Linked DNA regions of Homo sapiens. The protein of the gene in region 1 interacts with the protein of each later gene in a biochemical or structural test. Each region holds a gene or a part of one and is shown in the gene's direction. Other genes may lie near its edges.

Region 1 (3,647 bases):
GTATGTGTTCATTTTGATAGTCCTGAATTTTGACTTTATTACTCCCCTGCTGTACAGTACATAGGGCATGTTTCTGATCTCTGTTCTTCATGAGGATGTGTCTATTTTTTAACTTTCAAAGGGATTAAAAAAGAATTGCATGTGTTTTGAGTGCCAGAACTTTCCATTTATCTTTACACATTAATTTTAGTTAGTAGACAGAATTCACTTAACTAATAGCTGATATGATCAGTATTTTGTTTCCAAAACAGTATCATTCTGCTAAGTGGTTCCATAATAAAATAGAAGGAAAGGTATTGTTTTGTTCCTCAAGTGCATTCAGAATACACACACACACACACACACACACACACACACACACACACACCAGGTAAATCACTAATCTAAAAGACAAAATTGCATTTATTTTTCCCCCAATGGGTGCAAGGTCCTAATTGTAAATAATTGAATTTCAACACCTGCAAATAAGCAGTGTGTGCACAGAAGCATAATGTGAACACAGAGAAATGAATTTATTCCCCATATGGGTATGTTTGCCCCCTGGCAATGCATTTCCATACTCTTTAACTTGGGGACTGAAATGTTATAAATTGACAGTTCTACTCAGAAGACCTTTCAAGCATCTTGTGTTTATGAGAATACAGGGGCATCTGCGGAATGAATTCGAACACATGGATGAATTAAATTTGAAAACACACAGACCGAGAGGCAGACAGTTCCTAGGCTGTGGTCGTTGCATGGATTTTACAAAACTGTTAACCTACACCTTTGGCTTTGCTGTGTTCATTGTCCTGGGAAGAATTGTGGGTTTAAGAATTACTCTTTGATTAAACTACTTAAAAAAAAAAAAAAACCCTTTCCCTAAATGGGCATAATTTAGGTTAGTTCTGTTCTGTAGTTAAATCCCTACCCTCTCCCTGCTAATTAACATTATTTCTTTTTCTATGGCGGGACTCTGTATATTAAGTCATGAAAACAACTGAAGCATGCCACAGAGTTAGGGTTGGGTATATAATTTTGTCTAAATGTTCAAATGTTTTCACCCTGTGCATTATCGGCAGTTTGATCTTGAGAGTCCACCTAAGCTATCATGTTGTTTCTTTCTTGCAGAAAACATGCTTTAAACTGCCACAGAATGAAGCCTGCCTTGTTTAATGTGTTGTGTGAAATCAAAGAAAAAACAGGTAGGAATGAGATTCCAACATTTTAGCATTTTCTTTGGCCAATTAAATCACTTAACCAGCAGTCACAAATCTATTATTTAAATATTAAAATTTCAGAATACAAGTACTATGAAGGTTGACCTCATATTCGAATAGGAAGTCCTAGCCCTGCTTTCCTTAAAAAAAAGAATCAAGTTTCTTTGACAGTTATTATCAAGCACTACTGGTTAATTTTCCAGAACTCTATTTCCAGCCTTTTTGAGATTGGGGCTAAAATATAGATTCTGAAAGGAAATTTATAGACTGATGTATCTTTGGGGCAAAAATATGAAAGTAAAAGTTCATTTTTTTAAGGAATATATTTTGGCCCATTTTTAAAACCCTAATTTTTTTGGAGTTGGGTGTGGGGGTGCTAAACTGTTGAAAGTTTCCTTTCCTTTTTTTCTTGTAATTACACAAAGCAGCAGACTAGAGGTTCTCAACAGAGAGTGTTGTCAAATACCTTTGTGGAATGCGCTATACAACATTAGGTTATCGGTATTTGAGTGGCCTGTGATTTTATTGCAGGGAGAATCGTTGGGTTTAGGAGAGTATAACGCCATGAGATAATTCACTCTGTTGTTTTTCTACTTTCTAGACCTCGTTTCGTGGACTAACACACTTATAACACATCCCAGGAGGGCATTTAAATTTTAAAGCAACAATTAAAAAATAGCAGTCATCAATCAGAGGTGTTCTTAAACAACAGATGCTCTGGGAAGGACATTTAGCGACATCCCCTTGTTTATTTTAATCCTTAATTTTCCAAAGTGGGTAAAGCTCTCCCTTGTAAGAAGAAAGATTTGAGAAGGCAATCTGAAACCAGGGAATAAAGATGAGGGACAAGGGGTGGTTATATAAAGCGGGAGCTTCTGCTGGGCTCTGACTTACCCGCTCGCTTTAGAGCAGTGCAAAGTACCTGACATCCTATTTATTTATTTATTTTTTACAACAAGGAGTGTAACAGTCAATAATTCATATCTAAACCATATAAGCAAGGGCATGACATGAATGAAAGTGACAATAAATATGATTGCATGCTTGGTTGATATACATTGATAGTTACACATAAAAAATGGGCGGGGGGAGAGGGCACACAGGGTGGCTTTCTTTTTGAGAGCTCTCTGTGTTTTTCTTTTAAAAAAATAGTTTCAAGATGTGACTGTTGAATGAATATGTAATTACTTGGGTCTTGAAATGCGTGTAAAATTAGTACGCAGCTCCTTTGTTGAATGTTATTTGTGTTGTGCATAACATTCTAGACAAAGCACCTGAGAAGTGATGTTCAGACCTCTAAGTCTTCCAGGTTGCCTTGCCAAAGCTTAACCTTATTGCAAACCTGTTAATTGCATTATTTTAGCTGTGAGACAACTTTTAAAAGATTTATGGACTGTGCATTCAAATATCAAAAGAGTTTTTTCCAGTTTGTCACACTTTTTAGTTTCTTTTTTCTATTAGCCCAGAGTAGGAAACTTAAGTGTGTGTGTATATATATATTTATATATATTTTTTTATCTTCTCTCTTTTTTCTTCTTTGATCTCTGATGCTTATTTACTTTGAGTGTTTGGTTTGTTGAGATTTGTTTCTAACCAAGTATGAGTTCCTGCTGATCTTGTTTCATGAAATGTAGAATCAAAATATAAAAGCATATGTGATAATATGGACTAAAGAGAGTCTATTTTTGAAGATACTTTATCAGATTTTTATTGAAAGGAAGCCTGTCAGGGCACTTAAATGTACATTGTGGCCAAAGTGCTTAATTCTAGTTTCCTAATTAAAACCTACTGAGGCAGTAGATTAAAGTGGGTGGGTGTGAATAGAGATCCGGTTCAGGTGAGGGTTAAAGAGTTCGCTCCTTGTTCATGTTGGCTCAAGTATAATGATAGGAAGTAAAGTAGTCAGTCGTATTGGTCAAAGTAACATTCTAAAAGTTTTGTATTTTAAATTTTGTGTCAATACATTTAATGTTTAGAGACTTAAAAAAATCTAAATTAAGGTTTTTTGTGTTGTCTCTAGAATAACATATTTAAAAAAACAATTTACAAATAATGTAATTGAAAGTGATAAGAGTCATTGCCCCCTGTGTTAAGGGACACACACACACACACACACACACACACACAAGTCTTGGATTAAGAGGGCACCCCTGGGTGAAAGTAGGGGAAAAAAAAGGCTTACCTCCCTCTTAGTCTTCAACTTGTGTGTTGGAAGGATTGAAGGGAAGGCAAAAACCTCTCCTGGAATGTTGAGTGTTGTGTTAAAGGTAGGAGTCAACTGTGGTCTGCTGAAAAGAACCCTTTGATTCTAAAGCACGATTACTTGGCTACTCAAGACCCTGGAACCTTCAATCTTTTTGCCAGCATATCTTTCATGCAGTTGATGGGTCGGAGGAACAAAGTGTCTGTAAAGTTGCAGGAGCTTTTTTTTTTTTTTCCCCCTCTTCT
Region 2 (3,647 bases), on another chromosome or scaffold:
AGTTCATGTGTTTTTAAAGGTGTAGGCAAATCTAGTATTCTATCAAATTATAAATCAAACTATTGCTTAGGGAAATTCATTATGATCCATGAGTCTGTCCCTAAGTAACATATGAATCTCATTCATTTACCTTACTTTGCTCACGGTTGTCTGTGAGAAAGGAGCCATTGTCTGGTCACCAGTGGAAAACTTATGTCTGCGACATGACTCCATCATTTGCGTGCCCAAGTTCATCTTCAAAGGCATTAAGCTTGCCTTATTCACTGATTTAACCATTTTAATGTATCTTACTGAGAAAATCCTACTCTCAGCTGTAACCATAGCACAGAGAAATACTTGCTTTTTTTGTAAAGTAAGAAAACATGGAGAAATTTGATAAGTGACTTGCCAAGGCTGAAGTTTCATCATTTGAAACACCAGCCAGGAGCAAGTGCTGTGAATAAGCACTGTGGCTGATGGGTCCCAGGGCTGGGGACAGTAGGGAAGCAGGGCCTTTTCATGTTTTAACAGGTCCCCGGTCACTGAGCTACCTACGCCTTTCCCCAGTTGATCTGATCTCTCTTCAACGGTTCAGTCCCCTTCCCTGCGCAAAGCAATCCATGCAGAATCTTCAATTCCAGCTATTCTTGATTCCTCCTCAGAGTGTTCAGGGATGGCAGCTTTCCAGGTAACTCCATGGAGGCCTGCACTTTCTAACAAAAGGAATGCCTCCAAAAGGAGTTGGTTACCAGGTGTGGCATGAAGTTAGTGAACCAGAAAGAAGGGATTTATCCGCCATTTAAAAAGATTGGGGGGTGGAGAAAGAAAGGAATAAAGAAAAGAAACCAACAACAAACAGGAATGACACCTAAATCTACTTCTATCAATCTGAACCATACTTCGGAGTAAAAAGTCTTTAAAGAAAAATCATGATGGTCAGAGTTCAGTTGTAGAAAAGTATGCAAAGCTACCAAGTTTAGACTTTCTGAGGACAGGAGAGGTCTCTGGGAAATAGCTCTTCAGCAAGGCAGTAAGATGAGATTACAGTGATATTTGCTACCTTGGGTTTATTTGTTTTAATGTATTTTTTCATCTCTGAGTTGAGTCAGAAAGGCCTCGTGATTCTTGGAACATCATTGAATTTATTTCTATAATTAAGTTATTTTTAAACTAACAGTCTTAGTATATAATTTTTAAGGATCACACATACTCATGCATTTTCTACTTAAGTAAAATTTAGAGAAAAAGTAGATAGTCTTAGTAGATACTCTCCCAAGCTTTTGTATGGGCCTGGATACTAACTTTGTGTTCAATACAAATCAATGGAACTAGGGCTCTTTAGGGTATTCATTCCCTAAGGACTCACTAATGAAATTATGTGTAGCCCTTTAAAAAAAGTCACAATGAGGCTAATGAAAATTTTTTTTCTAAGTGAAATCTAGATAGAGCTAGACACTAAGCTTACTGGTACATTTTATGGACAAGTTGTAAAAAAACTCAGAATGTTTTTTAAGAACTGTTTAATATTGAAGAAGACTTTGTAACTTAAATTGTTTAAACCGATAGAAAAGTAGATTATATGCCTGCAACTTCGAAATCATTCTGGTATGACATTAAAACTTAGAGAATTTTTTAATATCAGATACAGATGAAAAATCTAACAGTCTTTGGATTGGAAATAACTTGTGGGGGTTTTCATTAAAGTTGGGTGCAGCTTGCTGCATTTTGGTTAGTTGGATGTCTTCAGCAATTTTTCAAATGTTTTGGGTTTGGCAAAGTCCAAAATGTTTTTTGCCAAGACCCTCTTTTCCCCTTATTTTTTAAACCCGTGTGAAATTCAAGGATAACTTAATCCATATGTGTCTGATTCATTTACACTTAACTCATCAAAATGTTATTTTATAAGGCCCATTTAATATCCATGGAACCTTTTGAGTCTTTTTAAGACAAGTCTTTTGTCTTTGAACCAGCAAGTTACATTTTTCCATATGAATGGAGCCTGAACCTTGAAAGACTGAAGATGAGTTGATTTTCAACTTAGCTTCTTCAAATTTTACGTAAAATCAAAGCTTGATATTCTATTTACTACTTGAGCATTGAAAAAGGTCATTCTAAAAAATATAGATTAGAAGATGTGGAAAAAAATTTATTTCATGTAATTTTGAGAAAAGACCATATATGGAAATTTCATCTTACAAATATTAAATAAATAAAAATTATTTCTAGTTTGATTTGTTTTAGTCTATAATTTAAATGGCTCCATGTTATGTATGTCAGTGTATTTTCTAAGAGTGGCCTCTGAGTCATCAGTACTGGTAGGAGGCGGTAATTTCATTTTTTAATGTCAGGGTTTTCTTACAGTCAGCTCATTAATTGTTAATTTTCATAGTAATATCTATGATGTCAATAAAATATCCCAAGATCAGGGGAATTGACAATTGGCAGGAGTTGCATGTTAAGAGATTTCTGAAAATTTGGGGCCCATATGTTTTTAAAATTCTGTGTGATTTGAAAGAATGTGGTAGAATTATGAATCTGTCAAGAAATAGCACTATGGATCAAAAACATTGTTTGAGAACAAAAATCCAGAGAGGCTAAATGGTGCCCAAGTGAAAAAAGCAAAATCTCTGTGACCCTTTTTAAAAGGACCTAGTGAAAACCTTCAGAGGCTTCTATTCATATTTGCTTAGGAGAAGTGGGTAAAGAAAGGCCATTGCCATAACTGCTAGTGAACATCCAGTCCATGCCATGGTAACTAGTTGAAAATGTTATACTGGAGTGGCATTTCCAAGTTCAGTGCTTCTATAAAGACCTGCTAGCTCACAGAATGCTTTTTTAATGTTCTGCATTGTTGTGTGTCCCCCATTGAACAACCTTTTGAGCGGACCTCGTTTTTACTAATGTAAACATTCTGACTAGTATCCAAAGAAATGACCTTTGAGTGAACCTCTAACCTTCCCCGTAAGTATTTGTTTGAAGACAGTGTGGAGTTCTCCTGCTGAGAACTAAGAACCATGATGCCTTGCAGCTCTGTGAGTAAGGGAGTGTTTGGGGGAACTGGAGAGAAAGACATAAATAAGGGAACAACCTCCAGATGTAAAGAATAAAAGAGTGAAATTAAAAAGGGAAAAAAATAGCAATTCGTTTTACCCGAAGAGTTAGCCTATACCGAAAAAAAAATAAAAATAAAAAACGCAAAACACAAAAACCAGGATTAGTAGCACATAAAAGGGGGTAAAACCCCTGCCGAGTGTTGTCCTCTATTAGAAACTTCAAGGAGAAGAGCCTTCTCTGACCCTCCTGAGCATCTCTGCTGGTTTCAAGGTGAGCTGATAAAAACGGTTCCTGGGGTGGAAATATCAGGTCAGTCCTCCTTGGTTGCTGTAAAAGTGGTGGGGAAAGAGTAGATAATTAAGTTCTTTTTCTGATTGGAGGAGGGATGCTTCTGGAAGTCTTTGTGATCTAGTCAGATATTCATTCCTCAGCAACATTTCAGGTGACAGGTGGGAAGAAAGATGCAGTTTCAACTCTCCTTTTGTTTTCACCTCTACATAGCTGATCACTTTCTTTTTTGACAACTGAGCTACACTTTCTTAAGTAATAAAGAAGTCCATTGTTTTGCAAACAAACACCATATGCAAAAGACTCCTTTGGTTTTCTCCCAGCTA
Region 3 (4,427 bases), on another chromosome or scaffold:
CTTCGGTGACAGCAAGGGCATCTACAAGCCAGGGAGCCACACATCAGAGCCACACACATGAGGCCACAGGCCAGGAAGCCACACACATGAGTTCTCACACATCGAAGCAAATGCTGAGACTATACCGGCCTCCCGCAAGAGAAGGAATCTGCAGAGAAGTCCACATTCCCGACTGGCTTTTTTGTCTTTTAATAAAAATAAAGAGTCCTCAGAATAGAGCACTCAATCCGCACTTAAAACACAAATATTTCCAGTAGGAAGAAAGAAATACATTAAGATTGACTCTCAAAGGTCTGGATGTTGGTGCGTTGTTTAGGAAAGGCGGAGCAGTGATTTTTCTCTGGCTTGGTTCTTTGTGGTTCAAGCTCTCTCTTGCTGAGACGTTTCTGCAAAGCTGTCTAGTTTTTCTAAAACCCACGGTGGCGTTTCGAGAAACGTCCTCATTTCGGGAGTATCCAGTCAGAGGCTGGTCAGGCCGCCAGGCCTAGCGGATCATGCCCAGGCAGGGGGTTGGACGTCACCGCCACCCGGAGGTCATCCATCCGCGTCAGTGGGTGCAGAAAAAGTGGCCCTGTTTAAGTCAGGACCCCAGAATGCCCAGAAGTTACTGAATGGTTTGAAGCCAAGCACAGATGTTATCATGGAAAATGCAGCGTTTTTATTTCTTTTTCTAAATATGTAACTCTTCCTCCACTTCCCCCTCTCCTGCTTGCCTTATTTCAATTGCAAGCAGAAGAGAGTGAGTGTTCTCTGCCGGCAAACTCCGCCAGGGTCCCGGCCCGTAGAGAGTCGTCAAGGGTCTGGAACCCCCGTGCCAACACCTGCCCCTGCTTCGCAGCCCCAAGAGGAAGGCCGCGTCTTTCCCCCTCGCTGTATTGGGAAGCTACGTTCCGGGCTGGCCAAATGGGCCCCAATTTTCCAAAACCCAAATTTGTAATACCCTTCAATTTTTTAAAAAAAAGAATTTAAAAAAGTCTCTGTGAATGCTTCAGAAGTTACCGTTTACACCCCAGAAGTACTTGCAGCACATCCACAAGTAAAAACACACAACGAATGCCAGAGTTTCGTGTGTTTTTTAACCGACATCTTTGTGGCTGTGAACAAACTTCATAAATAAAATAGAATCAAATGCTTCTGACCTAGAGAGCTGGGTCTGCAAACTTTTTTTTTATCGTATTCCGCAACAGTTAAATAAAAAATTAAAAACTCAACATGTCTCCTTGTAAACTACATCAATTAACAAACACACTATGTCCATTATCAAATATAATAGAAAAAATATAGGAAAATAGAAAATAGAAAAATATAGGAAAATAGAAACTTTTAAGCCACGGTGAAAATGTTTCTATAAATGAGTGGTTCTAATGTTTTCGTGAGCGCCCATTTTGGGGAGCACCGCCAGCTGCCCGTTCAGGAGTGTGCAGCAAACTCAGCTGAGAGAGAAAATTGGAACAAAAGCAGGTGCTCGCGGGTACCTGGGCCTAGCCTCTTAGTGCGGCCAGCCAGGCCAATCACGGCCCCCGGCTGAACCACGTGGGGCCCCGCGGAGCCTATGGTGCGGCGGCCGGCCCGCCGGTCCGCGCTGGCTGTGGGTTCCCTCTGAGATCAGTGCGGAGCTGTCAAAGCGAGCAGGGGTGGCGCCGGGAGTGGGAACGCCACACAGTGCCAAATCCCCGGCTCCAGCTCCCGACTCCCGGCTCCCGGCTCCCGGCTCCCGGTGCCCAATCCCGGGCCGCAGCCATGAACGGCGAGGAGCAGTACTACGCGGCCACGCAGCTTTACAAGGACCCATGCGCGTTCCAGCGAGGCCCGGCGCCGGAGTTCAGCGCCAGCCCCCCTGCGTGCCTGTACATGGGCCGCCAGCCCCCGCCGCCGCCGCCGCACCCGTTCCCTGGCGCCCTGGGCGCGCTGGAGCAGGGCAGCCCCCCGGACATCTCCCCGTACGAGGTGCCCCCCCTCGCCGACGACCCCGCGGTGGCGCACCTTCACCACCACCTCCCGGCTCAGCTCGCGCTCCCCCACCCGCCCGCCGGGCCCTTCCCGGAGGGAGCCGAGCCGGGCGTCCTGGAGGAGCCCAACCGCGTCCAGCTGCCTTTCCCATGGATGAAGTCTACCAAAGCTCACGCGTGGAAAGGCCAGTGGGCAGGTAAGCCTGGCTCCCCACCCCTTTCTCCTTTCCGGTTCTCACCCGGCCGCCTTACCTCCAAGCGCTCCCAGGAGCCTTCTCTCTGTTCCCGGCGCCTTGGATTATCCCGGGTCGGACTAAACTACATCAGGGAGCTACCGAGCCCATCCCTCACAGCAGTGCTTCTCTAGTCCAGTTTGAAGCATCTTTCCCACCCAGCTCTCCTGGGAGTGTACACTCCTTCCTTCCCTGTTCGCTGAGCCCATCTTCGCCCCAGGAGCCCGCGCTCCCAGCGCCATCCTTAGAGAGCCGAGGCTGAGTCCTGCTCAGGGCTTCGGACACTACAGATCCTCCTCCAGCAGGGGATCCGGGAACCCAGGACTCCTTGGTAGTGCACATCGAGGAAGCCGAGTAGGGACATGGGTGCCTCGGACCCAGGCCCCAGATCGCCTTCGGAGCCCCGGAGCCCCTCACTTCCCGCGCTTCGTTAAGGAAGGGCAGGCATCTAGGGGCGCCAGGTAGGTGCAGAAAGGCAGGGAGGGAAAGGAAACTGCACCCAACCCAGCAGTGTCCGGCTGCCCTGGTTGTGGAAACAGGATAGGAGTAAAGAGGAAGGGGCTGGGGCAAGGCGGGGGCTCACCGCGAGGCTGAAAGCCGGCCTCTCAACGTCAGAGCCTGGCAGCTAGGAGAGCAATCTGAGAAGCGAATTCGTTTTTCACCAACCGAAAGCAATTGAAGCTGTCTCCCCGCACCGCTTCCCAGGAAGTAATTTTTCAGGAGATGGGCGCTCCCTGCCTAGCTGGTGGGGAGGCGAGAGGCCTGGTTCCTGCGGCCCTCCGCGCCGGCAGAGAACAGAAGGTCTTTCCCGGAGCCGGGAGCCGGAGGCACGGGGTAGCCCCCGGGTCCTTTGCGGCCCCGCGCGAGCGGCAAGTTCCGGCGCGGCCTGTGTCGTCGCCGCTACTCACTGTCATCGCTGCCGTGCCTCAGCCACTTCTGGTCACACCTGCACCGCAAATAGTTGCCTTTTCCTTTCAACTGGCAGCCGGGAGTAGGGGGAAGCAGCTCGAGCCGGCGTCCCCCGGCCCACCCCGAAAATCCTCAGCGCCCATCTGCGGGGTCTGGCCAGCCCTGCCTGACACTGACCCCAGGCGCAGCCAGGAGGGGCTTTGTGCGGGAGAGGGAGGGGGACCCCAGCTTGCCTGGGGTCCACGGGACTCTCTTCTTCCTAGTTCACTTTCTTGCTAAGGCGAAGGTCCTGAGGCAGGACGAGGGCTGAACTGCGCTGCAATCGTCCCCACCTCCAGCGAAACCCAGTTGACAGGGGCGCCAGAAGCTGCCGCGGCGCCTCTGCAAATTTATCCAGCTCGCGCAGCCCGGGCCAAAGGCCTTGAAGTCTCCGGAAATGCGGGGTTCTTAGGAGGCGGGAGGACAGTCCCTCGAACAAAGGTGGGGGGCTCCTCGTCCTCACCCAGTTTTCTTCCAGGGCTGCCTCCCCTCCAGACCTCTCTTCTGGCCTCCTAGGCCCTCGGAGCTCCTGCTTTCCCACCCTGGGCCTTCCTCAGGAAATGGGCGACATCAGGGTCCCGAAAGAGGATTTGTGAGGTGGAGTAACTTCCCTATCCCAACCCAAGGGGTGATACCTCTGCTCTGGAGGACTTGGGCTTAGGCTGACCCAAGAAGCCAGAAAGTAAAACCAGAAGGCAAATCAGCAGCCTTGGCGAGGGTTCGGGGACCCAAGGAGGGCGACACTCTCGGGCTGGAGTTGGCCCCAGGCCTTTGCTGGCGCCCTCTAACCCGCTGCATGCTCGACTCTCGGGGAAGGAGACGACCTCCCCTCTCTTCCCCTGGAAGCCGTCTGCGGGGCCGGCTGCTATCCCCGCGTTCCTCTAGGGGAAACTTCGATGGAGCCGAAATTCAAAAATTGCAAACCCACCTGCCCCTGGGAAGAGCGAAGTGACAAAAGGGCTCTCACTGGCAGTACGAATCTGAATGCTAATGACAACAGAGGTTTTGAAAAACATTGACCCCCAAATGCTTCAGCAGCGCTGTCCAGCTGGCACCTAAACTGCATCACTCTGCGCCTTGGGGAAGGGCCCAGGCTTGGCGACCTTGACCTTTTCCCACCATCCTCAACCTCCACCCCTGCCGCGTCGCGCTGAGCACAGGTCCCCCGGGAATAGTGCACCCCAGGAAGTCTCTCCCTGAGCAGTCTCTCGCAGGGACTTCACGAAGCCCTCTCGCAGGGACTATACGAAGCCCGCAGCCTAAGGCAGGAACCCAGAGACATGTCGGTTTAATGTAA

What was found.
Region 2: the proteins of PBX1 (region 1) and MEIS2 form a complex in vitro, tested with the Homo sapiens proteins (one study listed by BioGRID).
Region 3: the proteins of PBX1 (region 1) and PDX1 form a complex in vitro, tested with the Homo sapiens proteins (one study listed by BioGRID).

What each region holds. Positions count from the first base shown.
Region 1 is NC_000001.11:164,562,128-164,565,774, forward strand, and holds part of PBX1 (pre-B-cell leukemia transcription factor 1), read left to right. Parts: intron 1-1,110; coding exon 1,111-1,184; intron 1,185-3,647. UniProt on the Homo sapiens protein: Transcription factor which binds the DNA sequence 5'-TGATTGAT-3' as part of a heterodimer with HOX proteins such as HOXA1, HOXA5, HOXB7 and HOXB8. Binds to the DNA sequence 5'-TGATTGAC-3' in complex with a nuclear factor which is not a class I HOX protein.
Region 2 is NC_000015.10:36,898,020-36,901,666, reverse strand, and holds part of MEIS2 (homeobox protein Meis2), read left to right. Parts: intron 1-3,647. UniProt on the Homo sapiens protein: Involved in transcriptional regulation. Binds to HOX or PBX proteins to form dimers, or to a DNA-bound dimer of PBX and HOX proteins and thought to have a role in stabilization of the homeoprotein-DNA complex.
Region 3 is NC_000013.11:27,918,399-27,922,825, forward strand, and holds the start of PDX1 (pancreas/duodenum homeobox protein 1), read left to right. Parts: upstream 1-1,601; 5' UTR 1,602-1,740; coding exon 1,741-2,146; intron 2,147-4,427. UniProt on the Homo sapiens protein: Activates insulin, somatostatin, glucokinase, islet amyloid polypeptide and glucose transporter type 2 gene transcription. Particularly involved in glucose-dependent regulation of insulin gene transcription.